2 separate regions of the Homo sapiens genome follow, and region 1 is linked to region 2. Evidence: fine-mapped expression QTL. A gene starts in region 2. The other region holds a variant in brackets. All regions are shown on one strand. Distances are between the middles of the regions.

The links.
Region 1: its variant is fine-mapped to the expression of NETO2 in monocytes (Quach 2016, PIP 0.95).

Annotation. Positions count from the first base shown.
Region 1 is chr16:47,060,276-47,076,114 of GRCh38, reverse strand. No RefSeq gene overlaps it. Among named protein-coding and RNA genes, the nearest start is that of NETO2, 76 kb to the left of the region's middle. The variant G/C (reference allele first, on the strand shown) is at 6,289.
Region 2 is chr16:47,136,882-47,152,720 of GRCh38, reverse strand. NETO2 (neuropilin and tolloid like 2) reads left to right here and starts at 8,776. Exons shown (of 9, transcript NM_018092.5): 1 at 8,776-9,142. The coding sequence starts at 9,109. It overlaps ITFG1-AS1 (ITFG1 antisense RNA 1), which reads right to left and starts at 8,653. Exons shown (of 4, transcript NR_110904.1): 1 at 8,227-8,653. It also overlaps the pseudogene RPL23AP72. RefSeq lists silencers at 8,246-8,575, 8,636-9,475, 9,646-9,795, 10,623-10,672, 10,683-10,772.

The DNA.
Region 1 (15,839 bases), 77 kb after region 2:
TCTCCTTTGAGTAAGATGAAATTATCTAAAAATGAATAAAGGATAAAATTTTTATTCTGATTCTATATTCTTTCATATTTCCAATTATGTAATATTAACATTGGGTTTCCTAGAAGGCATGGCTGATTTGCAACTCTATCATTGAGAAGATTCTTGGGACAACTGATTTACAAAAAAACACAACAAAAAGGCAGGTGTGTCACTGAGAAAGAAAAGCCTTTTGTGTCCAGAACACATTCTACCCTCAAGATGAGAAGTGTAGCCAAAGCAGTTCTATACAGAGATTTTTCTATTATGATAAAAAATATATACATAAATAAGATTTCCTGGAAGAGAATGCTCTTTTTTGCTTTGCTTTGACCAAAATGATTAAAAGACCAAGTCAGGAAAGTTTTTCTTTCTGAATTGTTTTTGATAGCTGACTGACAGCCACAGCTACCTGCTATAAAAGATAAAATTATGTCTTTAACTGTATCAGTGCATAAATTTTTCCTTTGAATTTGAAGGAAGCTGCTATTGCTGACATTGTTTTGCCCTGTGGGTATACTTATGGCCTAAGTCCTTTTCTGTTTTTTGTTTTTTGTTTTTGAGAAGGAGTATTCTCTCTGTTGCCCAGGCTGGAGTGCAGTGGTGTGATCTCGGCTCACTGCAAGCTCCGCCTCCCGGGTTCACACCATTCTCCTGCCTCAGCCTCCCGAGTAGCTGGGACTACAGGTGCCTGCCACCACGCCCGGCTATATTTTTTTTGTATTTTTTTAGTAGAGACGGGGTTTCACCGTGTTAGCCAGTATGGTCTCAATCTCCTGACCTCGTGATCCGCCCGCCTCGGCCTCCCAAAGTGCTGGGATTACAGGCATGAGCCACCATGCCCGGCCTAGCCTAAGTCCTTTTCTAATATGAATCAGTCAGCTCTTTGCCACTAGAAATAGTATGGTGCCTGTTACTTTGGAAGCACCTCCTTGTACTCCAAACTCTGCAAGAGAGGCACCAAATGAGCCTCTGTTGTTCCCCATCCTGCCATTTTTAATTGCTAGATGGCAGTCTCTGCTTCTGGAAGGACCTCACTGAGCTGCTCTTCTGCAGGGGTGGGAGAAGGGCCTGCCTTTCCGCAGGAGCCCTGTGGGTGTTCTCTCCATCATTTAAAAATAAGCACTCCCCACATGCCATACACTGTTCCTGTCCTGCTGTTACTGCCTCCATTTTTTTTTTTTTTTTTTTTTTTTTTGAGGCAGAGTCTCTATCACCCGGCCTGGAGTGCAGTGACGTGATCTCGTTCACTGCAACCTCCGCCTCCTGGTTCAAGCAATTCTCCTGCCTCAGCCTCTAAGTAGCTGGAATATTTAGGTGCCTGCCATTACACACGGCTCATTTTTATTAGAGACGGGGTTTTGCCATGTTGGCCAGGCTGGTCTCGAACTCCTGACCTCAGGCAATCCACCCGCCTCAACCTCCCAAAGTGCTGGGATCACAGGAGTGAGCCATCGCACCTGGCCACTGCCTCATTTCTTGGCTTTTCCCCATTACCCACAAATAACTCACAGATTTTTTTTTTATGGAGTCTCCTTTTGTCACCCAGGCTGGAGTGCAATGGTGCAATCTCAGCTCACTATAACTTCCACCTTCCGGGTTCAAGCTATTCTTGTGCTTCAGCCTTCCAAGTAGCTGGGATTACAGGCGTGTGCCACCACACCCAGCTAATTTTTGCATTTTTAGTAGAGACAGGGTTTTGCCATGTTGCCCAGGCTGGTCTCAAACTCCTGACCTCAGGTGAACTACCCACCTCAGGTGAACTACCCGCCTCAGCCTCCCAAAGTGCTGGGATTACAGGCGCGAGCCACTATGCCCAGCCAGAAACTGCCTTTATCCAAAGCCATGTCTTAAAGCATGCGCCGGGGAATGCTTCTGTTTTAAGCTGGCATTCTCACCTCTTTGCCCTGAAAAAAAACAGCTTGCTTCTCTTCCCCTCATCAGGTAGGCAAAGAAAGTGATTGCACACTGTTTTTAATTGCAGGTTTACATAAACCCACAATTCGAGAGCATTGATTTGTTGGACTGTAATCTACGCTTTAACACACTGAGCTGCATTTAGGCAGCGTGCCAGATGTGTAAAGTTGGGATTTAATGACATTTCAGTAGCAGCCCCAGAATTTAGTACAGTACTACTGTCGAATACTAATGTTCCACTAGCAAGAAAACAGAAACAGCTTCATCAGTTACCTTTTTGTCCCTTTCTTGAAGATGGAGAAACTGAAAGCAATTAACTGTTTCTTGGAAACTTCATCTTATAAAGAAACTCCAATCAAGAGCATCCCACCATAGTTGTGGCTATGTTCATGCTACTTTAGCAATCAACCAAAGATTAATTTTTAACACTTTAAAATATTATGCTGCCCATTTATGAAGTTGGGGATTTTCCTGATGACTTCATCAAGCATTTTTACTTTCTGAAACTGATTATGTACATGAAAAGTGCTACAAAGTCACCATGTGTTATTTCTGCTTTTCCATTTATTTTTAAATAGCAAAGGAGAAAATCTAACTTTTGAAAAAACACATATTCTGATCCTAAAGGATAGGGTTTCTCAAGCTCAGCACTGCTGATGTTTTGGACTGGGTAACTCCTCGCGGTGGGAGGGCCAGCCTGTGCACTGCAAGGGGCAGCAGACCACCCCCAGCAGTGATGAGCAAAACTGTCCCCAGACATGGCCAGAGTCTCCTCTGAGAAGGTGATACAGGGAAGGAGAGGGGCAAAGTCAAGCCCAGTTGAGAACCACTGCTATAGAAAACAAAATTACACTAAAAACTGTTGAATTCTACTTTAAAGAAATATTTCAAACTTATGAAAGGGTTTGGAGAACAATGAGTACCAACATACCTGGACCCTGCTAAAGAAGTTATGTCTGTAAACACAATTACACCCCACTGCGGTCCTCTCCTGGCTTTACTTTCCCCCAGAGATCCTGACCATGGTGGTGATCGTTCCCCTGCGGGTATTAGTTAGAAGTTAACTGCTGTTTCTCTAACACTTGTGGCTGATCTTCAGAGTTTCTCATGCCTATATCAAATCTACAGTTGCTATTTCTACCCTCTTTCTGAACAAAACAAGAACCATACAACGCCTGAGCCGTATTCACCCCTCTTCCATCTTATGTTATTTTCATTTAGTATTTTAGTTACTTGTTTTTTATATTTCCCCAAAATGGCCAGTTTTTTAAATCTTTATGTTCCTTTATTGGAGCAAGATTCCTGATTGGTATACAGTGATGTATTTACTAAACAGAGACCTGTGCAGAAATTACATACTATTCATCTAGATACATTGCTACACTTTTGCCTATTGATGGACCCATTCCATTTATCAAGTTTTATACATCAAAAAGCTTGTGAATTTCACCAGACTGTCCGTTAATTCACCTCTGAAAAAAGTGGCATTTAATTTCAGCTATTATATTTTACAGCATTAAAAAGCTTATGCATTAGGGTACTTCTCTGCACAATGGCATTAAGCAGACAGAGCTGAGTCCATTATCCCACCCCAATGTTTTTGTTTTTATGGTAAATACTTAGATTTTTCTCTATGTTTATCTGCTCATTTTCTCTCCATACTTTATTGCATTCCGACCTTACATCTGGGATCACTTTCCTTCTGCCTTCCTTTAAAAATTATTTATTGACACTGCTGGGTGATCTGTTCAGTTTTTGCTTTTCGGAAAATCCCTGTTTCCTCCTTCTTGTATGATACTTTATCTGGGTATGAAAGACTGCATTGACTGTTCCTTTCCCACAGTGCTTATTTCATGATCATGATCATGACTTCTTTTATAAACCTAAGTTCCCATATCTTTAATCTGTCTTTTCCCACTTAACTGATTCCACAATATTGTTTAGCCATTTCACTACAATATGTCTACATGTGTATTTATTTTTATATTTTTCTTGTGATTCCATATGCTTCTTCAGTCTAAAGATAAGTATCATTCTGGAAAATTCTTTCATGTTTCTTAACTTTCAGTATTTCCATGTCTTCATATTTTCATTGTGATACACATTTTCTCTTAGCCACGTCTCATCTTCTGTGTAACTGCCCAATGAGTACTTAATGAGTACTTAATGTGAATGATTATATTGTTTATTTCCAGAAATCCTATTTAGTCCCTTTAATTTTTTTTTTTTTTTTAAGAGACGGAGTTTTGCCATGTTGCCCAGGCTGGTCTCGAACTCCTGAGCTCAAACGATCCACCCACCTTGGCCTCCCAAACTAGGATTACAGGTGTGAGCCACTGCACCTGGCCTAGTTCTTTTAAAAATTTGCCTGCTCTTTTTCTATGGTTTCTTTTCCTGCGTTTTTCTTTCTCTTTTTTTTTCTCTTTTAACGAATTTAACCATTTTGTTTGTTTGTTTGTTTGTTTGTTTTTTGAGACAGGATCTTGCTGTGTTTCCCAGGCTGGAGTGCAGTGGCACCATCACAGCTCACTACAGCCTTGATCTCCCGGGCTCAAGTGATCCTCCCACCGTAGCCTCCCAAGTAGCTGGGATTACAGGCACATGCCACCATGCCCAGCTATTTTTTGCAGTTTTTGTAGAGACTAAGTTTCATCATGTTGCCCAGGCTAGTCTCGAACTCCTGACCTTAGGTGACTTGCCCACCCCAGCCTCCCAAAGTGCTGGGATTACAGGCATGAGCCACTGGGGTGCCCGGCCGATTTCCTTTTTTTTTTTTTTTTGAGACAGAGTCTCGCTCTGTCACCAGGCTGGAGTGTAGTGGTGCGATCTCAGCCCACTGCAACCTCTGCCTCCCAGGTTCAAGCGATTCTCCTGCCTCAGCCTCCTGAGTAGCTGGGACTACAGGCACATGCCACCACGCCCAGCTAATTTTTGTATTTTCAGTAGAGATGGGTTTTCACCATGTTGGCCAAGATGGTCTCAATCTCTTGACCTCATGATCCGCCCACCTCAGCCTCCCCAAGTGCTGGGATTACAGGTGTGAGCCACTGCACCCAGCCCGATTTCCTTCTTTTTTAATGCTCGGTAGTATCCTATTATATGTAACGGGATACTATTATCCCATGTGGGTATGCATATATACACACACACACCACATTTTCTTTATCCTTCCCTCCACGGATGGTCACGTAGGTAAATTCTGTATCTTGGCTATTGTGAATAGTGCTATGCAGTAAACATGGGAATGCAGATATCTCTTCAACATATTGATTTCATTTCCTCTGGAAAATACCCAGAGTGGGACTGCTGGATCATATAGTAGATCCACTTTTTTAATTTTTGGAGAAACCTCCGTGCTGTTTTCCATAATTGCTGTACTAATTTACATGCCCACCTACAGTGTGCAGGGTTTTCCTTTAATGGCCGTTCTAACAGGTGTGAAGTTATATCTCATTGTGCTTTTAATTTGCATTTATCTGATGATTCGTTATTTGGGGCAGTTTTTCATATGCCTGTTGCATTTGTATGTCTTCTTTTGAGGGATGTCTGTTTAAATTATTTGTCCTGAAATCTTTTTTATATGGTTTATTTTTGTCAAATCAAGAAGCAATCAAGGGGCCTCTTGTTCTTCCAGAAGGTCATTTCAACAGTGTGAGAGAGATACCATCAAGAGCTTCAGTTTGATCTCACATCCTCCTGGGGCCCACAACTCCTGCCAACCCCCTGGAGCTCTAGACAGACCCCCAAGAGCATTGGCTGCACGTCGCCATTGACTTTTTGTTCAGATGTGATGGGTTGACTAGTTTGTGGTGAAGTTACGTAGCACAATTTTTATCTGCAAATGCTAAGAGATAAGCCCAAAAAGAGCCTGTGTGGGCACTGGCACATTTATGTGAATATTCAAAACCATCCTCTTCCCAATTTTAAAAAAACCACGCCTGACAGTAGTTAAAGCAGTAAAGACAGATTTTATTCAGGAACTGTTGCTGTTGGGGAAAGAGCCCTCAGTGTGGAACTGGGCTCACTTCCGAATACAGCATGAACAAGTAGGGACGGTGGCCAGGAGCAGGGTGGGGGCAGCAGGTGGAAAATTACGGAGAGTATGCGAGGGGTGCAGAGGGATTCTGGTTCATCAGATGTAACAGGATTCTCCCCAAAGGCAGGTTAGAGTGGGCAGGCATTACCTGGGGGTGAGGGGTGGGAGAAGAATTCGAGCCAATATCGAGGGTGATTAGATACTGAGGTTGGGGATGGGGGTCCTCCACATTGACTTATGAAGATTTCTGCTACAGCTGGGTGACGGAGGCCTGAACAAGGACAGACTCCAAGGTTGAGGCCTAGAAG[G/C]CCGGAGGAATCTGACGTTTAGTTAAGGAGTCTTTGTCACCACCAACAGCAGGATACGCGTTCCTCTCAAGGGCACACAGGATGTGCTCCAGGCTGGAACACACATTAGGACCCAGAACAGGTATTCACAAATTTAAGAAGTTTAAAATCATACAAAATATCTTTTCTAAACCACAATGGAATGAAACTAGAAATCAATAGCAGAAGGAAAACCTGAAAATGCACAGATATGTGGAAATTAACACTCTTAACCAGTGGGTCAAAGAAGAAATCACAAGGGACATTGGAAAGTATCTTGAAACAGAAACTGAAAATGAAAACACAACATCCCAAAACTTATGTGAAGTAGTAAAAGCAGTGCTCAGAGGGAGGTTTATAGTAGTAAACACATTTTAAAAATAAAGCTCTCTAGGCCGGGTGCAGTGTCTCACACCTGTAATCCCACCACTTTGGGAGGCCAAGGCAGTTGGATCACTTGAGACCAGGAGTTCAAGACCAGTCTGGCCAACATGGTGAAACCCTGTCTCTACTAAAAATAGAAAAATTAGCCAGGCGTGGTGGTGCATGCCTGTAATCCCAGCTACTCAGGAGGCTGAGGCACATGAATTGCTTGAACCCAGAAGGCAGAGGTTGCAGTGGGCCAAGATCACACCACCGTACTCCAGCCTGGACAACAAAGCGAGACCCTCTCCAAAAATTAAAAAGATTAAAAAAAAAAAAAAAGATCTTGAACCAGCTACCTAACTTCACCTTCACACTTAAACAAACTGGGAAGAGAAGAACAAGCTAACCCCAAAGTTAGCAGAAGGAAGGAAATATAAATATTATCAAATAATATTATAAATAATAAAAATTAGAGCAAAGATAAACTAAGTAGAGACTAGAGAAACATCATCTTTTATTTCTTCTTATGCATTGTATGAAGAGAAAACCCAAAGTGGGTCACAGCTCTCAGTCTTTGTAACCTAGAAGTACATACTGCAGCGTAAGTTTCTTCCAGTTCAGTTTCCTTACATTGATGATAAAACTCTTGACATGCCCCAGCATCCATTAAACTGCCCTGAGCCCCTCATTCCCTATTTTTCTATACTTTTTTTTTTAAGAGACAGGGTCCCACTCTGTCGCCCAGGCTGGAGTGCAGTGTTGCGGTCATAGCTCGCTGCAACCTCCAACTCCTGGGCTTCAGAGATCCCGCCACCTCAGCCTCCCGAGTAGCTGGGATTAAAACCCTGAATCACTGCCTGGCCTTCTGAGATCCCGCCACCTCAGCCTCCCGAGTAACTGGGATTAAAACCCTGAATCACTGCCTGGCCTTCTGTGATGTTCCTAAAGGAAATCTAGGGATACACTGTTCTTGCCCCCAACTAATGTATCGTCCACTGGGGACTCAAAGAAATAAAAGAGCACATGAGAAACAACAAATGCTGGATTGACTGACCAGGAAGGACTCAAGCAGGGAGGCCCTGCAGCGCTTCCAGCGCTTTTCTGAAGGAGGAGAGGGACCAGCTGAGGAGGAGGTGAGCAGACTTCCTAACAACCGTAAGACTCAGATTGCAGGGGGCATTCCTCAGGTGCACAACAAATTGGGAACTGTGGGCTAAAATGAAGGTTTTGCTGAAAGAAAGGAAGAAGGAACCCATTGTGCCTCTGACTAAATGTAAACAGCCCCTTTCCTGTACCTCTAGCACATACCTGGTGTCCCACTCACCCAGGTATATTTTTTTTTTAAAAAAAGAGAAGCAGCCTGTGATGCTAAAGGAAGTAGAACATAGATGACTATTGAGGTTGCTCAGAATCGCCTGTGTACTTTCATGCACATCCAGACTCCTGGATCTGACGCCATTACACCTTTCCATCTTAATGAGTTGGAGATGAAAGGGAATAGAACAAGCTCCAAGGAAACCAGAAGAGATGAAAGGACCTCAGTTTCTTCAAATAACTCCAAAGACTTGAGAGACTCAGATTCCACTTGATGGAAAAAATGCCACAGCTCATGTCAGCAGTGGGAATGCAGCGCAGAGAGCCCTGAAAAGAAATCAATGAGCCCGAGCCATACAATATTGGGGCTCCCTTGATCTTGGTCAGTATGCCCTTGGGGATAATGTTCCTTCTCATTCAAGACAGAATGGACAAAACTACAATCACCTTCCCTCCTTTAGAACAAAGCCTTTGTGTTAGTCAAGACTCTTTGACCTGAAAATAATAAAAATAACAACCTAACACAACTCAGTTTTTTGGGGTTTTATTTCTATTTCTTATTTTTATTTTTTAAAGGTGGATCTCACTCTGTCATCCAGGCTGGAGTGCCATGGCATGATTATAGCTCACTACAGCCTCAGTCTCTTGGACTCAGCCACACCTGGCTGGTGATCGGTGGGAGTGTGTCTCTAGGCTGCCCAGCTCACCATGAGGTTTGTTCTCTGTGTGACCACATCCCAGCGCTCTCCCCTGCCCATAGTTTATGGCCCAAACCATGGTTGCCTGGTGTCACCTCCCAGCCTGCACCTGACCGTGGCTCGCTGTCCCTCATTTTCTCTCTGGCTATGGCCATGGGCCTGTACGTGAGGCTGCTTCCCTTCTGAACAGATTTCTGGCTTCCTTCTTCAACTGTGGCTTGAACTTTTATTCTGTTATTCATTCCACAAATATTGCCAGGGCATTACCAACTGCCAAGTATAAAGGGTCCGTGTTGAACAAGGTAGATCTGGTCCCTGTTCATGTGAACTTAGGTGCCCTTAGAGAAGGTTGTTAAGCAATTAGAATACTAAGAGACCAGGTGCGGTGGCTCATGCCTGTAATCCCAGCACTTTGGGAGGCTGAGGTGGGAAAATTGCTTGAGCCCAGGTGTTTGAGACCAGCCTAGGCAACATAGGGAGACCTCTATCACTGCTAAAAATTTAAAAATTTAGCGGGGCACAGTGGTGCATGCCTGTAGTCCCAGCTACTCAGGAAGCTGAGGTAGAAGGATCACTTAAGCCCAGGAGTTTGAGGTTGCTGTGAGCCATGATTGCAGCACTGCACTCCAACCTGGGCAACAGAGTGAGACTCCATCTCTAAAAATAAGTAAATAAATAATAATAAATAAAATAAAATAAAATAAAAATCTGATGAGTGATAGGAATTAGAAGGGCCTGCAAGAACACGTGGCAAGACCCTAAACCAGTCTAGTGCTCAGAGAAGGGCTCTGTGAACACCAGATAGTTTGAAGAACAAATGATGAGTTCAAAGTGGGCTGTGTTGTATGTGCAGGACCTGGAGACATCCGGGTGAGTGTCTCACGCTTTGGATTGTGTGGCCTGCTGCTGCTCTGGGCAAGCACTCTCCCACCCAGACCCGACCCAGTGCCCAGGGACCCAGCCAACACAGGCCTGAAAGACCCCATGCTCTCCAAGTTCACCTTAAACATGATGCTGACACATCCAGGTTTGTCATCAGAATGTCCTAGGCCAGCAAAAGAGATGAAAGGGCTAAAAAGATGCTCTGTGTGAAACAAGAGCTGCTCCCGGGAAGCCAATAATTACACGCTGTGCTTATCATGCTGAGTTGTCAAAAAAGCTTTCTTCTAAACACCAAGCAATTAAGAAAGGGGCAGCAAATATTTGCTGATTGATTGATGATGGTTCCCAGGGATGGGCCACAAAAACAAGAGTTCTAACTGAGGCAGGCATAACAAGCAGCGTGGGGTCAAAGAAAGGGGTGAGAAGCAGAGACGAGGGGGGCGGCACTGGTGGGGGGGGCCTGGCACATGAGCTCAGCGTAGCGAGGTTCCCACCTCTGTCCCCTCCCCTGGCTGGCTTTTACCCCTCCTTGCCACCAGTCTCACTCCTCCTCCTTTCTCCCTCTCCTCCTCCAGCCTTTGCGGCTCTTAATGACAGTTCTGATTCTCCGGGCTCCCTGGCAGAGCCCCTCCCAGACCCAGCTCTGGGCCTCCCTAAGCCCTTCCCTTAAGGGTGGTGCCACCCCCAGGCTCACCAGAGCCCTCAGGGTGGGCCTCAGCCATGGGTGGGGGACTGAGAAAGTGCTGAAGTTTCCCACAGTTCTGGAGTTCACACTACCAGTATTTGAATGTAATATCCCCTGTAAACCAAGGATTGCAGAGAAAGCTTTCTCAGACTGAAATACATGTGATAAGAGGGAAATGATTTTTTTCAAGTTTACAAAAAGATCAGAACCGATTATGGCTAATAACACACAAGAGGAATGGAAAAAGCCAGGCGTGGGGGGTGCATGCCTGTATCCCAGCTACTCGGGAGGCTGAGGCAGGAGGATCGCTTGAGCCAGGAGGTCAAAGCCAGCCTAGGCAACATAAACCATAACGATTAAAAAAAAAAAAAAATTTTTTTAAAATCTTCCTTCTAGAGGCATTAAAAAAGGGTTAAAAAAATTTCAACTATAGGCTGGGCATAGTGTCTCACACCTGTAATCCCAGCAATTTGGGAGGCCAAGGTGGGTGGATTGCTTGAGGTCAGGAGTTCAAGACTAGCCTAGACAGCATGGTGAAACCCCATCCCTACTAAAAATACAAAAATTAGCCAGGCATGGTGGCACACGCCTGTAATCCCAGCCACTCAGGAGACTGAGGCAAGAGAATTGCTTGAACCCAGGAGGCGGAGGTGGCAGTGAGCCAAGATCACGCCACTGCACTCCAGCCTGGGCAACAGAGCAAGACTCTGTCTCAAAAAGGAAAAACAAAAAATTCAACTATAGTTATAACTCAAAGCAATACCCATACACTTTCCCCACACCAGCAGAACTGGAAATTGAAAATTGCATGTGACTGTGGCCATAGACAAGCTCTGGGCGCCCTGAGCCTTGGACTAACCCAGCACCTTCCACCAGGAGGCCAACCTCAGCTGTTCCCTACTGTGGATTTACCCATCAAGCCAGTGCCAATTTGGTCTGAGGCTGGAACAGCCAATGGAGAAAGTGACTTTATTGGGATTTTCACCTCACTCGTTGGGAGAAGCAGAGACGTCGGCCCCTGCTCCAGGAGACTGCCCTCCTGGATCAAAAGGAGGCCACCTTTTCCTGCACCATAGGCCTTTATTAATTATTTTAATAATCTTTCACTACCAAAGCAATATATGTGAATTTTAGAAAACAGGAAAATACTGATGATCCCCAAATAAAAATAACACATTTCCAACCACTCAGAGACTACCACTATAGCTCGTCTATATCCTTCCAGATTTTTCTGTGTATTAATATATATGTGTATTGTTTTTACTAAAATGAGGCCACACCATACATATTGATTTTTTTCCTTTCAACTTTCATTGTGAAAATGTCAAACCTACAATAAATTGAAAAAATGGCTCCCATTCATGAATTGGTGCCATTTTGCCACGTTCGTCTTGTCTGTCTCCCCAATGTCTATATAGATTTCTCTATATCTATGTCCAGACATAGCGAGACCCATATAGAGTAATACATATATAGAGAGAGAGAGATTAACCATTTGAGACTAAGTTGCATATATCATGACCCTTCCCCCTAAATACCTCAGCATGTATCTCCTGAGAACAAGGATGTCCATCTACACCACACACAATTATCACATCCAAGAAATTTAGGCTGGGCATGTGGCCCACACCTGTAATCCCAGCACTTCAGGAAGCCAAGGCAGGATGATTGCTTGATCCCAGGAGTTTGAGACCAAATTCGGCAACATAATGAGACTTCATCTCTATGAAAAAGTTTTTTAATTAGCTGGGCGTGGTGGTGCACACCTGCAGTCCCAGCTAATTGGGAGGCTGAGGCAGGAGAATCCCTTGAGCCCAGGATGTTGAGGCAACAGTGAGCTATGATCACACCACTGCACTCCAGCCTAGGTGACAGAGCGAGACTCAGTCTCAAAACAAAAAACAAAAAAAAAAACATATTTCACAGTGATACAATATTATTAACTAATACACAGTTAATATTCAATGTCCCTTAATTGCCTAATCCTTACCTCCTAATCCTGTCCCTTACAGTTGGCACTAAAGGTTGGGTTATTCAGGAGTTCACACCAAGATGGATTGGGGGTACAAAATGTTTGTTTGTTTGTTTGTTTTTGAGACGGAGTCTGGCTTTATTGCCCAGGCTGGAGTGCAGTGGCGCCATCTCAGCTCACTGCAAGCTCTGCCTCATGAGGCATCTGTGCCTGGGAAAGGAAGCAGGACTGAGCAGAGGAAGAACTGCCACATGGGCCTGACACAGCCTCAGTCCACCCGATGGGGAAGCTCTGGAGTGAGAATTGCCCATCACATTGTCTTATATGGAGCCAGAAGGGCCTTGATGGCCCCTCCTGAATCAGTATGCATGGGGCTGACCTTGGGCAAGGCAGCTCTCCAGCCAAAGCAGATCCCGAAGAGCAAATAGCAGGGGCCGTCTGCTGGCCACATTCTCGGTAGGAGGCAGCCCGTTGCAGGGGTATCTGGGTGGCACACCTCCATATCTTCTGGATCCGATTGAGGGTCACATGTTACATTAAGTCATCACGTCTCTTCAGTCTCCTTTAAATTATAACATTTCTGTCTTAGTCCATTTGGATTGCTATAACAAAAATACCATAAATTGAGTGGCTCATAAACAACAGAACTGTATGTCTCCCAGTTCTAGAGGCTGGGAAGTCCAAGATCAAGGCACCAGCAGATTCAGTACCTGGTGAGGCCCTCTTCCTGGTTCATAGATGGCTGTCTTTTCACTATGTCTTCACATGGTGTAAGGGGTGGAGGATCTCTCTGGGGCCTCTTGTTTAAGGGCACTGATATGGTTTGGCTCTGTGTCCCCACCCAAATCTCATCTCAAATTGTAATCCCATGTGTCAAGGGAGAGACCTGGTTGGAGGTGATTGGATTATGAGGGTGGTTTCCTCCATGCTGTGCAGGTGAGTTCTCATGAGGGCCGATGGTTTTAAAGTGTGGCACTTCCCCATTGCTTGCTCTCTCTCCTCTGCTGCCATGTAAGACATGCCCTGCTTCCCCTTTGCTTTCCCCCATGATTGTAAGTTTCCTGAGGCCTCTCCAGCCATGTGGAACTGTAAGTCAAACCTCTTTTCTTTATAAATTACCCAGTCTCAGGTATTATCTTTAGAGCAGTGTGGAAACAGACTAATACAGACACTAATCCCATTCATAAAGACATCACTCTTGTGACCTAATTACCTACCAAAGTCCCCACCTCCAAATACCCTACAGTGGGGATTAGGTTTCAACATATTAATTTGGGGTACAGCAACACTCTGTCTATGGCAATTTCCCCTGCCTTTTTATCCTTTAGGAGATTAACATGTTTGAATGGCCCAGGCAGTTGTTTTGCAGAACATCCTCCTTTTGGATTTGTCTGATAACATGGAGCTTCCTAACTCACTTTGTTCAGTCCACAGTCTCCCTTCCATTTTAATACACGTTCCTGCCATGTAATACCTAGATGACAGTCAGACTTTCCTGATTACAGCCACTTCATCCACACCACTGTCCAATCCAGTACCACAGACTGCACCTGGTGGCTACCTTCCTTCTCTGTCTTTTAGTCCAGCACGGTGTTCCTTTTATGAGATGAAACATGGAGAGGCTGGGCCGCTTGTCTTGCAGGGCACCCCATGTTCTGGTTGCTTCCATGTGGTGTCATTTAGTTGGATCCCCTACTTAATGAATTCAAGTTACACATTTTTGGCTGGGCTGCATCACAGGTGGTGTACTTTGAGAATCACACACGAAGTGCTCTGTGAGCCTTGAAATACGAGTCTTTTACTGGGTTTCAAATGCTCACTGCTCCCTCTCCTAGCTCCACCATTTACCAGTTTCATAGGGAGGAGTGCGCCTATTCCTATCGCCGCATTCCCCAGCAGGGGGCTGTGAGAGGTGAGATGGAGGCTTAGGTGGGATGAGGGGTGGAAGGCAGTGAGGAAAGCCAGGGAGCCAGGAGATTTGCGTTCTCATCCTAACTCTGTCCTCACCTTTCTATGTGACTTTAAGTAAGCCCCTTGACCGCTTGTCCCTACAACACAAATAGAACGTTTCTTGCCCTGCCTACATTGGAGGCAGTGAACAGGATCCCATAGAGTGTAGACGTGGAAGCACTTTCCAAACCAGAGCACATCAGGGGTAAGGGACGCTTCCCACCAGGAGATCAGGGCAGGGGCCAGATCATCCTCGTGGCATGATTAGAGCTCGGTGGATCGTGTGGCTTTACAAGCCGCACGATTCCCTTCCTGACGTTCGGGACTTTCATTGTGCCAAGCAGATCCGCATCTCCTTCAGTCCTACCAGTGACCCCGGGTGTAGGAGGCCAACTCTCAGAGAAGGTCGCACCCAGCCTGCTACTGCCACAACTGCTAAGCCCAACCTCCCCTCAGGAACGGGCATGAGCTCGAGAGGCGGAAGTAAAAGGATTCAGATCCCTTGATTGAGCTCCAGGAACGAGGACTGGAAGCCGCCTCTGGCAGGGTGGCCGGGATTTGAGGTCAGCCCAGGCCAGCTTGGGTTGGATGTGGCTTCCCAGGGGTAGAGGGAGCAGCTCACACGTGCCAAGGATCCCACACAGCCTGGAAGCTGTCACTTCCCAGCTGCTGGACCTCAGGGAAGGAGGCCCAGAGAGTAGCCCAGGGAGGGTACAGCAGGCGGCGACTGTTTATGGACTGGGTGTTAAATGGCTGCAGAACATGGCAGCTTCAGGCCTCGGGGCCCAGGGAAAAGTTCGTTCCTGCTTCTACCCAGAGTTTTAGGTGGTGGAGAGGCTTGAAATGGGGAGTTACTGGCGTCTCTTAACCAGGCCTTCTGGGGGGTAAATATTGTGAATATTACTCCTGCCTGGAATAACCCTTCTAGGGTTTCCAACTAGAGGCACCTGGCCTGGTCAGACTTCCTCATTCAGCCAGTGTAATGGTGGTGTTGCTTTCAGATGGGCTTGAATGTGTTAGGCACTCTCCAGTTTGCCACAAGCACCACCACTCCCTACTGTCTCAGTTCAGTCCTGTGATCAGTTTTATTGCTGCCAGATTGTAGGACCCACCCTGCCCCTGGAAGAATTGAGGTTGCGAGCTCACAAGCAGGCGGTCCCCATTGCAACTCCTGCCTCTTTGGCCAGAAGCAGCCATGATCAGCCATTGTGAAAACCGAGACTGTGGTCCCAATAGGGGCCACCTTCCAAGCCTAAGTGCCTCTCCACCATAGTGCTGATCCCTGCCATCCCAGGACTTCAGATTGATCCTTGAGGCCAAATGTAGATTCCTTTGTGAAAGGAGATGGCCGTATTACCTCACTAACAGCTTAGCACCAATTGGTTAATAAAATACCAGGAGAGAGAAAGAGAGGAAATTGGCATCTATTAAGAGTTCACTCCGTGCTAAGTCCTGGATATACCATCCCACTTAGCCTCCCAGCACCACTGTAAGACAGGTGGTATCCCCATTGTACATATTGGAAAACCAAGGTTAGCTTCCCTTAAATTGCACAGACAGTAGAGCACAGCCAGTTTTTGAACCCGGATCTGAATGTGAGACTGTGCTTTTTCCTCTATCCACACTGTGTCGCCATAAGCACCTTCTGTGTGCCAGGCACAGGACT
Region 2 (15,839 bases):
ATCTGCAGCAGGAACATGTCCTTAAGGCACCGATCGCTCATGCTATTGTTTGTGGTTTAAGAAGGCCTTTAAGCGGTTTTCCGCCCTGAGTGGGCCAGTTGTTTCTTGCCCACATTCTGGTAAACCCGCAACCTTCCAGTGTGGGCGTTATGGCCATCATGAACACGTCACAGTGCTGCAGAGATTTTGTTTATGGCCAGTTTTGGGGCCAGTAGATGGCCAGATTTTGGAGGGCCTGTTCCCAACACCAGTGTATCTGAAAGTTTATACAAAATGGACCAATTCCTAGGAAAATATCACCAAAACATACTCAAAAAGAAACAAAACCCTAAATATTCCTTCTAGTGGATGCTGTGGTGTAGTGTCCAGATCCGGCATCAAGAATAAAGGACTTATTATCCTAATTTCTGGGAGTGTCATCACTGTTCATCTGCCAGCCTCATCTGGAGAGCAGACTCACCCAAGATCAGGCCCCTCTTCTTAACATAAAAATCCTAAGTGTTCATAAACTAAAAAGTAAAAACCGCCAGACCTGTAAGGAGAAACAGACAAACTCACGATTTAAGTGGGAGACATCAACACTTTTCTACAGTAACTGAAGGAAAAAGTAGGCAGGAAATCAGAAAGCTTAGAGCTGACCTGAAAAGCACTCAGTCAATCTAACCTAGTGGCTATTTATATAACACTCTAACCAACAGCAGCAAAATAGTCTTTTTCAGAGCACATGGAACACTTACCAAGATAGACCATATTCTGGGCCATAAAACAAGTCCTACCAAATCTAAAAGAATAGAAATCATACAAAGTAGATTATCAGACTATAATAGAATTGAACTAGGGAGATCCATGGAAAATACCCAGATATTTTAAATAACCATAGGGTCAAAGAGGAAGTCTCAAAAGGAAATTTTAAAATATTTTGAGCCAAATGAAAAATACAATGTAACAAAATTTGTAGGAGGCAGTGCTGGGGGGTGGTATTTATAACACTAAATGCACATATTAACAAAGAAGAAAGGTGATGAAAGAAACCAAGGAAGACTTCAATGGAAAGACAGTGTGTTCATGGATTAGGAGATGCCAGTACTCCCCAAAGTGATCTGTACATTTCACACCATCCCTATCAAAATCCCAGCAGTATCTTTTTGTGGACATGGACAGGATTTTGTGCAACTTATATGAAAGAGAAAATAAACTAGACTAGTTTAAAACAATGTTGAAAAAGAAGACAAAGTTGAAGAAATCAAACTATGTGACTTTAAAACTTATTATAAAGCTTGAGTAATAAAGATAGTGTGGTATTGGCAAAGAGAGACACATAGACCAATGGAATAAAATTGAGTCCAGGAATAAACTCACACAAATATAGACATTTGATGTTTGACAAAGATGTAAAAGTTACTAAGTGGAAGACAGTCTTTTCAACAAATAGTGTCAGAACAATTGATCATCTGTATTTGCCATAAATACAAAGGGCAAAGGAGAAAAAAAGAACCTTGATCTAAACCTCACACCTTACACAAAAATTAACTCAAAGTGGGTCATAAATTCAAATATAAAATGTAAAACTATAAAACTTTAAAAGAACACATAGAATGTCTTCATAGGCTAGGGGTAAGCAGAGTTCTTAGAAATGACACCAAAGTTATGATTCTTTTTAAAAACTGATAAATGTGACTTCATCTAAATTAAAAATGTTTGCTTTGACAAAGACACTTCCAAGAGAATGGACAAGCTATATATGCAAAGAAAAAAAAATTTTTTTTTTGAGATGGAGTCTTGCTCTGTCACCCAGGCTGGAGTGCAGTGGTGTGATCTCGGCTCACTGCAGCCTCTGCCTCCCAGGTTCAAGCAATTGTCCTGCCTCAGCCTCCCAAGTAGCTGGGACTACAGGTGTGTGACACCATGCCTGGCTAATTTTTGTGTTTTTAGTAAAGATGGGGTTTCACCATGTTGGTCAGGTTGGTCTCGAACTGCTGACCTCAAGTGATCCACCCGCTTCAGCCTCCTAAAGTGCTGGGATTATAGGCATAAGCCACCATGCCCGGCCAAGAAAATATTTTCAAATCACATATCCAACAACAGACTTGTATCCTGAATCTATAAAGAACTCTCAAAACTCAACAATACAAAAACTCAGACAAGATGACACCTAAGGAAGCTCCTGCCTCTCCCAAAGCTGAAACCAAAGCAAAAGCTTTGAAGGCCAAGAAGGCAGTGCTGGAAAGCATCCACAGCCACACACAAAAAGGAGTATCTGCACTTCACCCACCTTCCAGCACCCCAAAACACTACAGCTCTAGAGACAACCCAGATATCCTCAGAAGAGTGCCCCCAGGAGAAACAAGCTTCATCACTCTGCCCGATTCCCTGAGCATTGAGTGTGCCATGAAGAAGACAGAAGATAACAACACACTTGAGGTCACCGTGGATGGCAAAGCCAACAAGCACCAGAGCAAACAGGATGTGGGGAAGCTCTGCAACACTGATGTAGCCTGATCAATCAGGCCCAATGGAGAGAAGGCGTGTGTTTGACTGGCTCCTGCTTATGATGCTTTGGATGTTGCCAACAAAATTGGAATCATCTAAACTGAGTCCAGCTGGCTAATTCTAAATGGACATCTTTTCACCAGTAAAAATAAAAAACAATTTGAGTGGGCAATAATTTGAGGATACTTCACTGAAGAGGATATATAGGTAGCAAACAAGCATATGAAAAGATGTTCAACCGGATATGCCATTAGGGAAATGAATACTAAAACTATGAAGAGATACCAATACACATCTATCATGAATAAAAAGTGCTTTCATGGATAAAACAAAGAATACTGACAATTCAAAGTGCTAATGTGGATGAGGAAAAACTAGAATTTTCATATATTGCTGGTGGGGATGCAAAATAGGAAAGCCACTCTAGAGAACAGTTTGGCACTTTCTAAAATCAATTGCATTTTTATACGCCAGCATGAACAATTAGAAAATGGGATTTAAAAACAGGTAACATTTATAACAGCATCGAAAAAGTCAAGTACCTGGGAATTAGTATAACACAAGATGTAGCATACATCTCTGTCTGGTAAATTATAAAACTTCTCTGAGAAACGCTAAGGAAATTTTCAATAAATGCACATCTGTAACCATGTTAATGGACAGGAAGACTCAAAATTGTAAAGATGTCAAAGCCCTCCCAATTCCACTCATCCCAACGGGGTGTTGTGTTGCCGAGCTTGCTAAGAGGTTTCTAAAATGTACACGGAAATATAAGAGACCAAGAACAGCCAAGACAATCTTGAAAAAGAATAAGGACCTGCTCTACCAGGTAACAAAATAATAAAGTTAGGGTGATTAGGCCAGGCATGGTGGCTCACGCCTGTAATCCCAGCACTTTGGGAGGCCGAGGCGGGTGGATCATCTGAGTTCGAGACCAGCCTGGCCAACATGGTGAAACCCTGTCTCCACTAACAATACAAAAATTAGCCGGGCGTCATGGCACAAGCCTGTAATCCCAGCTACTCGGGAGGCTTGAGGCAGGAGAATTGCTTGAACCCAAGAGGCAGAGGTTGCAGTGACCCAATCATGCCATTGCACTCCAGCCTGGACAACAAGAGCGAAACTCTGTCTCAAGAAAGAAAAAGTTAGGGTGATTAACAGAGTGCGGTATTGGTGAAGAGATAGACAGACCAATGGAACATATTAGAGAGTGCAGAGAAAGACTCATACACATGGAAGTCTGATTCAGGAAGGAGGTAACACCACAGAGCAGAGGAATATGAAAGGCCTTTTAACAATTTTTATTATTTAACAAACATTACCAAATAACTGCATCAAGAATTTACACTTATGGTTTCATACTACACCAATAAACTAGCATTTGTTTCAGCTTTTAGTAAATAGGTTTTTTTTTTTGGAGGAGGGGGTGTTGATTTCAATGAAAGAACACCAGGTTAGAAAGTAAATAGGTTTAAGCAAACATATCTCTTTTCAACATGGGATTTTGGTTTTAAAGAAAAAAAAAAGATACCATATATGTTAGTAACTTTATTCTAAGAAATACACAGTCATATGTCACTTAATGACAGACATACATTCTAAGAAATGCATCATTGTGCAAACTTCATAGAGTGTCCTTACACAAACCTAGATGGTGTAGCCTATTACACACCTAGGCTCTACAGTTTATCGTATTATTCCTATGCTACAAACCTGTACAGCAAGTGACTGTACTGAATAGTGTAGGCAATTACTTCCTACACACAATGGTAAGTATTTGTATATCTAATGATATCTAAACATAGAAAAGGCACAGTAAAAATATGGTATTATAAGCTTATACAGTTGTGTATGTGGTCCATCATCCACCAAAAGGTCATTATGCAGCACATGACTAAAATTAGGGCATTTCTTAGTTTTTCACAATCAAAGGAAAGTAACTAATGACCAGAAATTTTCTTGACAATTTGAAATTTTCCTGGTAAAGATGAAATATTTTATATTAATAGGAAGCAATATTTCTTAAAAGCGTTCTTTAAAATTATGCTAACCAGAAATTTAGAAGTTTAGGGGACAGTGTTACTGAAAGAATTCTTTGACCCCCTGACAGCTCTTCTTCAATATCAATAACACAGGAATGATTGTGGCTCTTGCATTTTATGGGCTGAATTGTGTTTCCCGCAAATTCACATGTCGAAGCCCTATCCCTCTATATAACTTTTTGGAGACAGGGCCTTTAAGGAAATAGTTAAGGTTAAATGAGGTCAGAAGGGTTGGACCCTAATCCAATAGGACTGGTGTCCTTATTAGAAGAGGAAGAGACCAGGGGTGCACACAGAAAGAGTAAAAGGCCGCTGAAGACACAGTGAGAAGGTAACGGTCCGCAAGCCAGGAGAGAGGCCTCAGCAGAAACCAGCCTCCAGAACTGTGAGAAAATACATTTCTACACTATAAGCCACCCAGTCTATAGCTACACTGTAATTCTGCCATGGCAGCCTGAGCAGACTAACAGAATGCACTTTTTAAAAATTACAATTTTCCTCTCTTCCTTCCCTAAAAAAAACCCTACAGTTGTGTAATAAACACTGAAATCTTCATATACTGAGAACCCACCTGATTGTTTTTCACTAAATGTCACCATTGCTGTAGCCATATTTGCACCCTGTAAAGATCCATATTATATTTTACTACAAATAGTTTCTGCACATAAAAGTTTGGTTCTTTTTAAATTCCTCTACCTTCCTTAGTTATAATCTCTGTATTAGCTGGTTCAGCCTGCCACAACAAAATACCATAGACTGGGTAGCTGAAACAACAGACATACTTCCTCACAGTTCTGGAGGCTAAAGTCTCAGATCAAGGCAGGAGCCAATTCAGTTTCTGATGAGGATGCTCTTCCTGGCTTGCAGATGACTGCCTTCTTGCTGTGTCCTCACATGGCCTTTCCTGGTGCCTGTGCATGAAGAGACAGCAGGCTCTCTGATATCTCTTCCCATCAGGACACTATTTCTTTCAGATCAGGGACCCACCCATACGGCCTCATTTAACCTTAATTACTTCCCTCAAGGCCCTCCTCTTCAAATACAGCCACACTGTACGTTAGGGCTTCAACATATGAACTAGGAGGGGACACAGACAGTAAGTAACAATCTCCAAACGCAACAACCTGCTTTCCTCGGCTGTCATGTAATAAAATGTTAACACTCCCAAACAATAGCAAAACAGAGACACAACAAAAATCTGTTAAGTGTATAAATATTGACAATAAAATGCTTCCTTTTAAAAAATGGTTCATTCAGCCGGGCGTGGTGGCTCACACCTGTAATCCCAGCACTTTGGGAGGCCGAGGCAGGCAGATTACCTGAGGTCGGGAGTTCGAGATCAGCCTGACCAACATGGTGAAACCCCGTTTCTACTAAAAATACAAAAAAAAAAAATTAGCCGGGCATAATGGCAGGCGCCTGTAATCCCAGCTACAAGGGAGGCTGAGGCAGGAGAATCGCTTGAACCTGGGAGGCGGAGGTTGCAGTGAGCCATTGCACTCCAGCCTGGGTGACAGAGTGAGACTCCGTCTCAAAAAAAAAAACAAGGTTCATTCTAGTAACAAGTAAATGCCATGCAATACCATTCAAGTACTACATGGGACTTGGTCAGAGAAAACCCAGTTCAAACTATAGGAATGATTGTGAGGAGTTGGAGAGCCTGAATGGATGCCTGGGAGACTGGCAGGATGCAAGGAAAGCCGAGCCCTCAGTCACCTGGAAACTGCCAGGTAATCTGGGAACAGACTGGGTGCTACTGGGTGATCTTCCAGGAAAATAATAATTCAAATACAGAACCCAAGTGAGAGATATGAAAACGCTTCCCTTTTGATTTGGCTAACATATGGCCACACAGTAGTCTCAGCTATGATCTGTGCTTTCCTACATTCCTCGAAAAATCGACTGCAGACGATTCCACCAGCACATCTAAAAAAGATAGGTGTCTTAAAAGGGAGCCACAAAATGAACATTCCCAATTGGAATCTACTCCCAAGCCAACATTCTAGAGGAAAAAAGATTTTTTAGGTTTAATCAAAATAATACAAGTAAGAGCTTCTAAAGTAAACGTAGAAGTATTACAGATCTACTTTTGGAATTCTTGTGGTTGCTCTAATCTCTCCCCTTTTATTACAACCTCAACTGCCAGATGAAATCTTCCCAGAACTCCATTACTGCACTATTAAAAGTAATCATTTACCTAACTAGCATTTGAGCACCTATCTCCATAATCAAAGCCCACCATGTCCAACCTCTTTATACCAAACACAACACTTGCCCCACGTTCCAGGCTCATCCTGCTCCCTGCCTGCTGAGCTCTTCTTCTGCCTCCTCTCCTCTCGCCACCCCAAGCATTTCCATGGTTTGTGTGTCACCTCCTTCAGGAAGTCTTCTCTGATGACATGACACGCAGATTTTTCCTTCAGTCAACAACTTCACATTAAGAAACTATTATGTTAATTTGAGAGCCCCTTCCTCTCAAATTTTTTTGGTTCACTGTTGTCTGTAACCTATACTTAATATTGTCTTCTTACTCTCCTATTCTACTAATATGCTACATCATTATTATTATTTGAGACGGAGTCTCGCTGTTGCCCAAGCTGGAGTGCAGTTCAAGCGATTCTCCTGCCTCAGCCTCCCTAGTAGCTGGGACTACAGGCGCGTGCCACCACGCCCAGCTAATTTTTGTATTTTTAGTAGAGATGGGGTTTCACCATGTCGGCCAGGCTGGTCTTAAACCTCTGACCTCGGGTGACCCGCCTGCCTCAGCCTCCCAAAGTTCTGGGATTACATGCGTGAGCCACCTTTTCATATCCGTGGGAAAAAGTTCTTAAATGTTTTATTTCCTAATTGGTTCTCGTGTGCGATCTTAACTGTAGTAGGTGGTTACCTTTAGGAACCCAAACTTACCCATCTTTTATGCCCCCATTCACAGCACATGGCAAAGGGTGAAACACCTCGATATTAATTGGTGTTAAGTATGTTTTTCCTTTGTAAATCTCATGAATTATTTATGCTTTTGTACCTTTCTTGAAGGAATACAAAGTGAGAGAGAAGAGCTTAACACCTGAAAAATGTTTCAGTTGCCTGACATTGTCTTTAGCTACAATTGGTTAGACAAACGTTTACAGAGTTCCTACTACACGCAGAGACAGGCATAAATATTCTATTATGGTAAGGCCTTGATCACGGTTGTTATCTCCAGCACCAATCATTGTCTTCTGCACATAATTAACACCCAATACGTATGTGTGGAGTGAAAAAAATGAATGCAGTCGGCCTGCCTGCAAGCAGCTGATATTTTAATGGTGTGAGGGTGAGGGAGATATAAAGGATGAACAAATAAATAAATGAGGAAGGTCATATCAGTGTGATAACCGCTGTGGAGAAAATAAAGCAGGATCATGAATACCACCAACAGCCAGGCAGTTGTTGGCAGACCTGGAGACTCCCATCAGCTGGCGAAGCTGCCCAGCGTAGTGGTTAGCTGCTAGGAGGGCAGCCCCGGGGGAGGTGCACAGCCCTGCCGCTCATTCGCTACGCGGCTCTGGACGAAGGGCTTCACCTCTCTGGCCTCGACTTTCCAATCCCCTAAAACCTACTTCATGAGGGGGAGTCTGAGGAGTTGGTACTAAAGTGCCTGTCAACCTGGCGGGCGCTAGGGAAACGCCGGCAGCGCCGCGGGTCGGGAACTCACCGGCGCGAAGGGCACGGAGAGCCTCGGGCTCCCTCTGCCGATGTCCGCGCTTCCCTGCCCAGGGTCGAGCAAGGCTGAGCTGGGCAAAGTTTTGACCTTGAATGGAGGTCTGGGGGACTAGGGACCGGCGCCCCTCTCTGTCTGCTAGGGCTGGCGGAGACCCGGCAGGCCGGCGAGGGTGCGGGGCCGAGGTGGGCGGCGCTTCCCGGGCGCCTCCGTCAGACGGGAGGCATCGAGGGCTCGGCCAGCTGCCCCGGGCGCCCTGCGCGGCGGCTGGGCACGGGCCGGTCACTGCCCCGGCGCCGGCCTCTCGGACGAGGCCGCCGCGCAGCCACGGCGAGAGGCACCCTCACTACCCCCGCGCCCAGCCGGCTCCCAGCCCTAACGGCAGCCGGCGGGGAGCGACGCCGTCCCACGGCGCGAGGCCGCGGCGGGCGCGCGAGGCGCGGCGCGGGGCGGGGCGGGGCGGGCACATGCGCACAGGCGGCGCAGCCGGCACGCGGCGCTCGCGCTCCCTCCTTAAATGAGCCTGGGCGCCCCGCGCCCGCCACTTCAGTGGATCCCGCGCCGGGGCCGCGGGCGGAGCTGCCTGCCGGTCCCGCGCCGCGCGTCCGCACTCCTCGGCCCTCGGGCGGTCGATGGGACGGGGCGCCGCGGAGCAGGAGGCGGCGCCCGTCGGGGTGCTCGGGCCGCGCGGGAGCCCACTGTGGGGCTCGGGCATGGCGGGCCGCAGGACCTGAGCTCTCCTCAGGGGAGCGGGGAGGCAGCTGCTGGCCGGCGATGGGGACGGAGTGGGGCCGTCGCCGCCGCGCCGAGCCGTGAGCGCCGAGCCACCGCCGCCGCTACCTCAGCCCTTCGCGAAGCGCCGGGCAGCTCGGGAACATGGCCCTGGAGCGGCTCTGCTCGGTCCTCAAAGGTAAGGACCGGGGCTGGGGCCACGGACGGCGCCCCCTGCGGGCCGAGGCTGGCGCGCCGCCCTGCCCGCGCCTCTGCGTCCCTTACCCGCGCCCGGGACCCGACGCGCCTCTTTGTCTGGCGGGGCTCGCGGCTACTCGGAGCGGACCGCGGGGCGCGAGCCCTGCCCGGCTCCGCCGGCTCTCCGGGCGCGCCGCTTCCGACCCCTGCGAGTCCGGCCGACGTTCGCGGGGCGCGTGTGGGAAGAGGGATCGGGTCGGGAAGGCGGCCAGGAGGCCCCTGGGCCCAGCAGGGCCCTCCGGGCTGCGCCCTCGCGCCGCTTCCGTAGAATTCCGCGCATCCCTTTGCAAAGTTGTGAGATTCCTGTCGTGGAGCGGAGGCCGCTCTTTCTCCAGATGTGATGGCAAAAAGTAATTCCACGAGAACAATAAAAGCCGCGGCCGTGACGTCGTGCAGTGGTTTTCGAATAGCCCCGCGGCGCCTGCACCTCGCGGCGGGGAACGGGGCCTGCTGGGCCAGCCGGGTCCCACCTGCTGCGGCCACGGAGGCTGCGGCACCACTGCGGGCTCCGGGGGCGGCGCGCGGGCGCCGCGGACCCGGCTTGTCCCGGCCCCCGGGGAGCGCTGCTGCTCGGGTGCTTCCCGGGACGCGGCGCTCCTCGCGCTCCGCCAGAGGTCTCAGAATTCCCCGCCGCTGGTGTTCGGTTCTTACTAATTTGTTGTACTGGGAATTAAAACAGTTGGCTTGTCCAGAGCACAGAGCTCTAAAACCTACTCCACCGGCTTTGCATTTCCCAGGAGGTGGTAATTTAGATGAAAATTTATATACATAGATAATTAGGATTGGGATACAAAGTTGCTCCTGAAACTCGGACTGAATAAATCGTCTTTTCAATTTCCAGAGGGAAAACAGCACCACCACTCAGTAAAGGACTTCCCTTTTTCCCCCTGCTGATTTAAATTGAAAGCTGACGTGTTTGTAATGTCGTAACATGTTCTTTTTTTAAAAATTTCGAGGGTACGGCTGAGGCATTATTAACGGTGTTATGTATAACTCAGCACTGTATCTTAATATTTGTAGAGTGACTTTTTTCCTGCTCCCTAACAGCACTTTTTTCAAATTTGTTTTATTAGAAAGTTCAGTGTAATTTTGCTTTTGATTTTAATTGGACACATTGTCTACTCTCCACATATTCCTAAATTCGTAATTGAGATTTCAGTAATTCGAAACGTTTAACTACCCCACTGTAAACGTATCTACAGCTTGTACTAAGGTAACCTAGGACTTTCTAGCTGATGAATATTTCACAAACCGTAAATCCGTAGTGATTTCTTTATTACAATTGAAAACAACTCTGAAATTCATCCTGTGGCTTTCATATCTCTAACTCCTAATTTTTACAGTCATTCCTGGGAAAGGAATGTTTTTACTCTTTCGTGATAAACCGTATGCACACTAGGATTTCTGATCGTGTTGCTTATCTGAATTTTCTGCCGTTGTCGGATTGCGCCCTCACTACGGTAAGGTTGTCAGCATGCTACTGACCGTGCATCCGAGAGCACCCCCGGATGAAATCGCGTAGATCTGTCACACCGCTTTACCTGCAGAACTTGATAAAATCGAGCTGGATAGGGTAGGGGCTGGTAGCGCCTCCTCCAATGGTGAAGGGATTTGCAGCGTTTCTGCCTTTGCCTTTCCCGTGGGTGCACACTGCCCTCTCTGGCCATCGTGGTGAAGCGTTGAGTGTTGTACCTTTCAGGAAAGGATTCTGGTGATGGCAGAGCTACGGTGAAAACAATATAGTGTCTGGCTTTTCTTTTTTCAGTGTTAGCCTACACTATTTTTACATGCTGGAGTATTTTTAAAGCTCAAGCTGAATTATTATTGTTGTTGCTGCTATTGGTGGCGGCTTCCTAGAGAGAAAGCAAGTTATTTTTAAAGTCGTCTGTGGTATCAACTTGTAAATGCCAATAACTGGTCTGGAAAGATTCAATAAATTGTTAACAGTAGTTGATTCTAATACGGAAATCTAGGGGATTAAAAGACAGGAATGAAGGGAAGACTGGTTTCACTGCACACCCATTTGTATCACTTGATTTTGTTTTTGTTTTTTTTTTTTACCAAACGCATGTATAATTTATTTAAAAATCAATATTTTAATTTTAAAAAGTTGCCTTTAAAAAGATACTGGCCTTTCCCATTACAAACTACTCATTGTGTGCCCCAAGGCATGAAGAAGTTTTCCTTTTATCCTATAAAGTGAATTGCTTTAACATCAAAGAGGTTCTTATCTGAAGCAGCTATTTAACATTTACATAATTGTGGATATTACCCACAGAAGCCTTGTTTGAAATATTATGGTCAGTTTCTACTAAAATAAATCAGCCATAATGAGTGTGTGAGATTTTAAGTAGAAAGTAATTTTAGTTCTTTAAGATGCCACTGATTATTCTTGTTTTACTTTCAGCCATTAAGACAAAAGAATAACCTTACTAGGCTTTTAAACCTTTCCTATGTTGTTGAAACTAAAAAATTCACTTTTAGCTGTGATCACTCTAGGCCTCACAGAATTCGAGTTAATCTTCTGTCAAGGTTAACTAAGCATTATAGTCTCATGAAAATATTACATGAGGATTATAAATCCATTTTTTGTTCTTATTCTGCACACTTGCTTCAGGAGAATCTGTTCGACTCAGCAATATTTCAAGCTGTAGAAACTGGTTAAATTTGTAATGTAACAGCAAAAATATTCCTTGGCACTGTATTTAAAAATCTTGTCTGAGACGGTGCAAGTATTAACTCGTTTTTCATTCTTACATTTCACCCAGGACTATAAACTAGTTATACAGAAATAAGTGTGGTACTGAAAAACTTGTCCTTTAATACTAAAGCCTTATTAAAAATCAACTTTTTGGCTTTTCCTTCCAGGGGTTGGGAAAAACTGTTTTAACACTGTCAATTGAAAAGTCTTATTAAATAATGGTTTTTTTGTAGTAAATCCTCAACTGCAATCTGGTTTATCTTTCATTTTGAAATTAAAATCACTATTTAGGAAAAACCCTGCATGACAAAACAAGTTGAAATCAAAGCCATTTTCAGTCCTTTTTAGAAAAGATAGAAAAATGATAGACTAGAAATAAAGTTCATATCTGAAATTTTAAAACAATAGACTACCTCCTTCTCTTGGGGTACCACCCATCCAGCACAATCTCCTATCATTTTTCAACTTACGCTCCTGTAGAATAATTATTTATACTTAGAAATACGTCTCCCTGAGGCACTGGAGATTGAAATTATTATGATCTTTGAGTTGGAAAGGAGCATCTTAAGAGGTGGTCTAATCCAATGGTTTCCAAACTTCAGAGGAACTTTTGTGAGGAAGCACTTGAAAAAAAAAGGAAAAAGGACAACAGAACAGAGTTGCTGTGATTGGTGGGAGGCCTTGCCCTCTCAGTCACCTCAAACACCAGGGTGGCTCCAAGAACTGACACTTCAACGGGTTTGTTATATTGCTTCCAAAATTACAGGGTATACTAATCTGAAAGTTCAGTCCTTTCTAATCAAAATGACATTAAGACATGTTGGTTTAAATATGCCTGGAGTAACATTGGAAATTACAGCACTAGAAGATACCAAGTAGTCTTTCAAATATGACCTGATCATGTTAGAAGGTGATGGTAGTCACTGTACAGTCAGGAGGACTGATGTGTAATTAAAATACAGCTTACAAAAGCGCCATCTCAGATCAGCTCGACTAAGGAGGAGTTTGTCACATTCTGCAGGAAAGAGAAAGCACTTCTGCTATAGAGTTACTCTTTCTTACTAAAGTGATTGGCATGTCATTAGCATATGTAGGCTGGAGTGATCCCAAAGTTCACCATCCATCTTTGTTCTTAACTAGTAAAGTATGATTGAGTTTGATTAAATTTGGGTACTTTTTTTGTTCTTTGGAACATAGTTTATCAAAAACAAGTGACTGCCATGTCAAATAGTATGTGGACTCTAATTGAACTCTGTTCTGCTGTCATTATAGGAAATGGTAATGAGCAGAGAGACCAGGTAGGTGGTTCTCTGTGTTGGATTTTAAAAGCTTTATGTTTACCACTGAGTTGCTTAACACAGGAAGATGTAGAAAGAGACACACTTAATTACTAACAAAGGTAAATTGAGCCAGCTTGAGGAAAATAACAGTGGTGGCAGGGTATCTCAGGAGGGTGGGGGGGAATCTCAGTTCTTTTCCCATCCCCTGATTTGTGCTCGCATTTAAAAAAGCAAGGTCACATGTGTGGCTACTGTTTGTTCATCCAAGATGTGTGCCTGTCAGTTACTGTGCTATGTGTTTGCGGTTACAAAGAAGATGCACTGGAGTCGCGCTCAGTCACCCCCATGTGTTCATCGTGTCTGTATTGAATACTGTTGAGGCCAGACAGTCTTTTAGGCTGTGGAGATGCATCAGTGAATCAGACAGACAAGGCCCTTCTTTCTAGTGAGAAGAGACAGACAACCAACAAGACTCAAAATACCAGGTAATATAATAATGAAGTAAAGCAAAATGAAGGAGAAAATGTAGCGCTTATTTAGAAATTGGGAAAGCCTCACAAGACCTGAACAACAGGAAGGAATCAGCCAAAGAGATTCTAGGCCGAAGGCACAGCTGGTTCCTGAGGCAAGAATTAGCTTGATGTGTTTTGAGTGATGGGAAGGCGGCCTGTGTTCTAGTAGAGAGCGCTCGGAAGGCCAGAGAGACACGCAGGCTCCAGGTCACATAGTACCTCCGAAGTCAGAGTAAGGGGCACAGAGTTGTTCTAACTATAATGGGACTCTACTGGAAGATTTTAAGCAAGGCTGTGATGTGATCTGATTTGTATTTTGAAAAGGTCACTGGCTGCTGTGTACATAATACACTATAGGGACTGTGGCAGAAACTTCCAGTTGTCTAGAAATGTCCATTTAACTATTTGTCAGTAATTCTCTGAATTTAACTGAGCGCACAGTTCCCCAAAATGAAGACTATTTACCAGTTTCCTGTTGGTTTAGGTGACCATGTGACTAAGTCTAGCCAGTTAGATATAAGTAGAAAATGATGTGTGCAACTTAGGGGAATTGTTGTTTTTGTTGTTTAAACTTTTATTTTGAAATCATTGTAGATTATGGGCAAGTGTTTTTGTTTTGTTTTGTTTGAGATGGAGTCTTGCTCTGTCACCCAGGCTGGAGTGCAGTGGCACGATCTTGGCGCACCACAACCTCTGCCTCCCAGGTTCAAGCGATTCTCCTGCCTCAGCCTCCCCAGTAGCTGGGACTACAGGCGTGTGCCACCATGCCCGGCTAATTTTTGTATTTTTATTAGAGACGGGGTTTCACCATATTGTTCAGGCTGGTCTTGAACTTCTGACCTCATGACCCGCCCACCTCAGCCTCGCAAAGTGCTGGGATTACAGGCGTGAGTCACCGCGCCTGGCCCTGGGCAAGTGTTTTTAAAGAAAGAGAGAATGCCCTTTATCAAGTCATCATTCTTGATAACTAGAATGCAGACATGGGAGCTATAATGAAGATAGAATAGCTGGCACTCCAGCCTCATACTGGACCATAGGGTGACCTTGGAAATGAGCCTCTCACAGCTGGGTAGTGAGACAGAAGGAACCCAGGTCCTGGTATTTATAGAGCCTTCACTCTGATGCTTGACTCCCTATGTCCAGCTTGTTCGCATGACAGAGCAATGTATTTCTATCTTGTTTTAAACTGTTAGTTTAGGTATTTCTGTTACTCATGCCAAACCTAATGCTAACATAGAAGTGTGCAAAATCAGTATAAGAACAAAAAAATTAAAAAACAGATGGAGAGCTGTTGAATGATCAGAAGTGAAAAGTCTGAATGCAGTCAAGTAAAATTAATCTGGAAAGGGTTCCTGGAGAAAGCAGGTTTTAGAAAATGTACTTTCATGGAAGCAAAGAGGTCCAAGGTCCCTGGCAAGTGCAGATGTTCAGAAACAAGAAGTATTTGTTGGAGCCCTTATAAGAATAGATAGTAGAGCCTTCACCTCAAGTTCAACGTTTCCAAAATCGACTCAACTCCTTTTCGCCCACCCCTGCCCTGCCCAATCCATATTGGTCCAAACATGTCTCCTGCCACTACCAAAGGAGGGAAAAGGCCACCTCTCACTGTTGCTTTCAGTAATCTGCCATGCTCCTGTTGCAGTGGTACTCACAGTGTGGTCCCAGCTCCAGCAGCTTCTGCATCCCTAGAGAATTTGTTAAAAGGCAGATTCTCAAGCCCTGCCTCAGACCCAGTGGATCAGAGTCTCTGAAAGTACTCCCATCTGTGAGTTAATAAACCCAAGGTGATTATGATGCACATTAAAGTTTGAGGACCACGGTCACAGTGATTCAGTTCCCACACCTGGAAGTAGAAATGCTGGTGGGATTTGCACATTTTTGAGCCTTAATATATTCTACCAGATTAACCTCCAAAAAGTTGTGCCAGTTTGTAATCCAGTGGCATTATATGAGTATGTCAGTTTCCTATAGCCTGACCAACACTAGAATCTGTACATGTATATATGTATGTATGTTTGTATGTTTGTAAGGCTGAATTTTTGGGTTTTGGCACATTTTTATGATGGTCTAATCTTTTTTCCCCCATTTATTATTAGTTTTTATTTATGTGTCTGTCGTTAGTAAATGAAGGTGCTCTTCACCTCA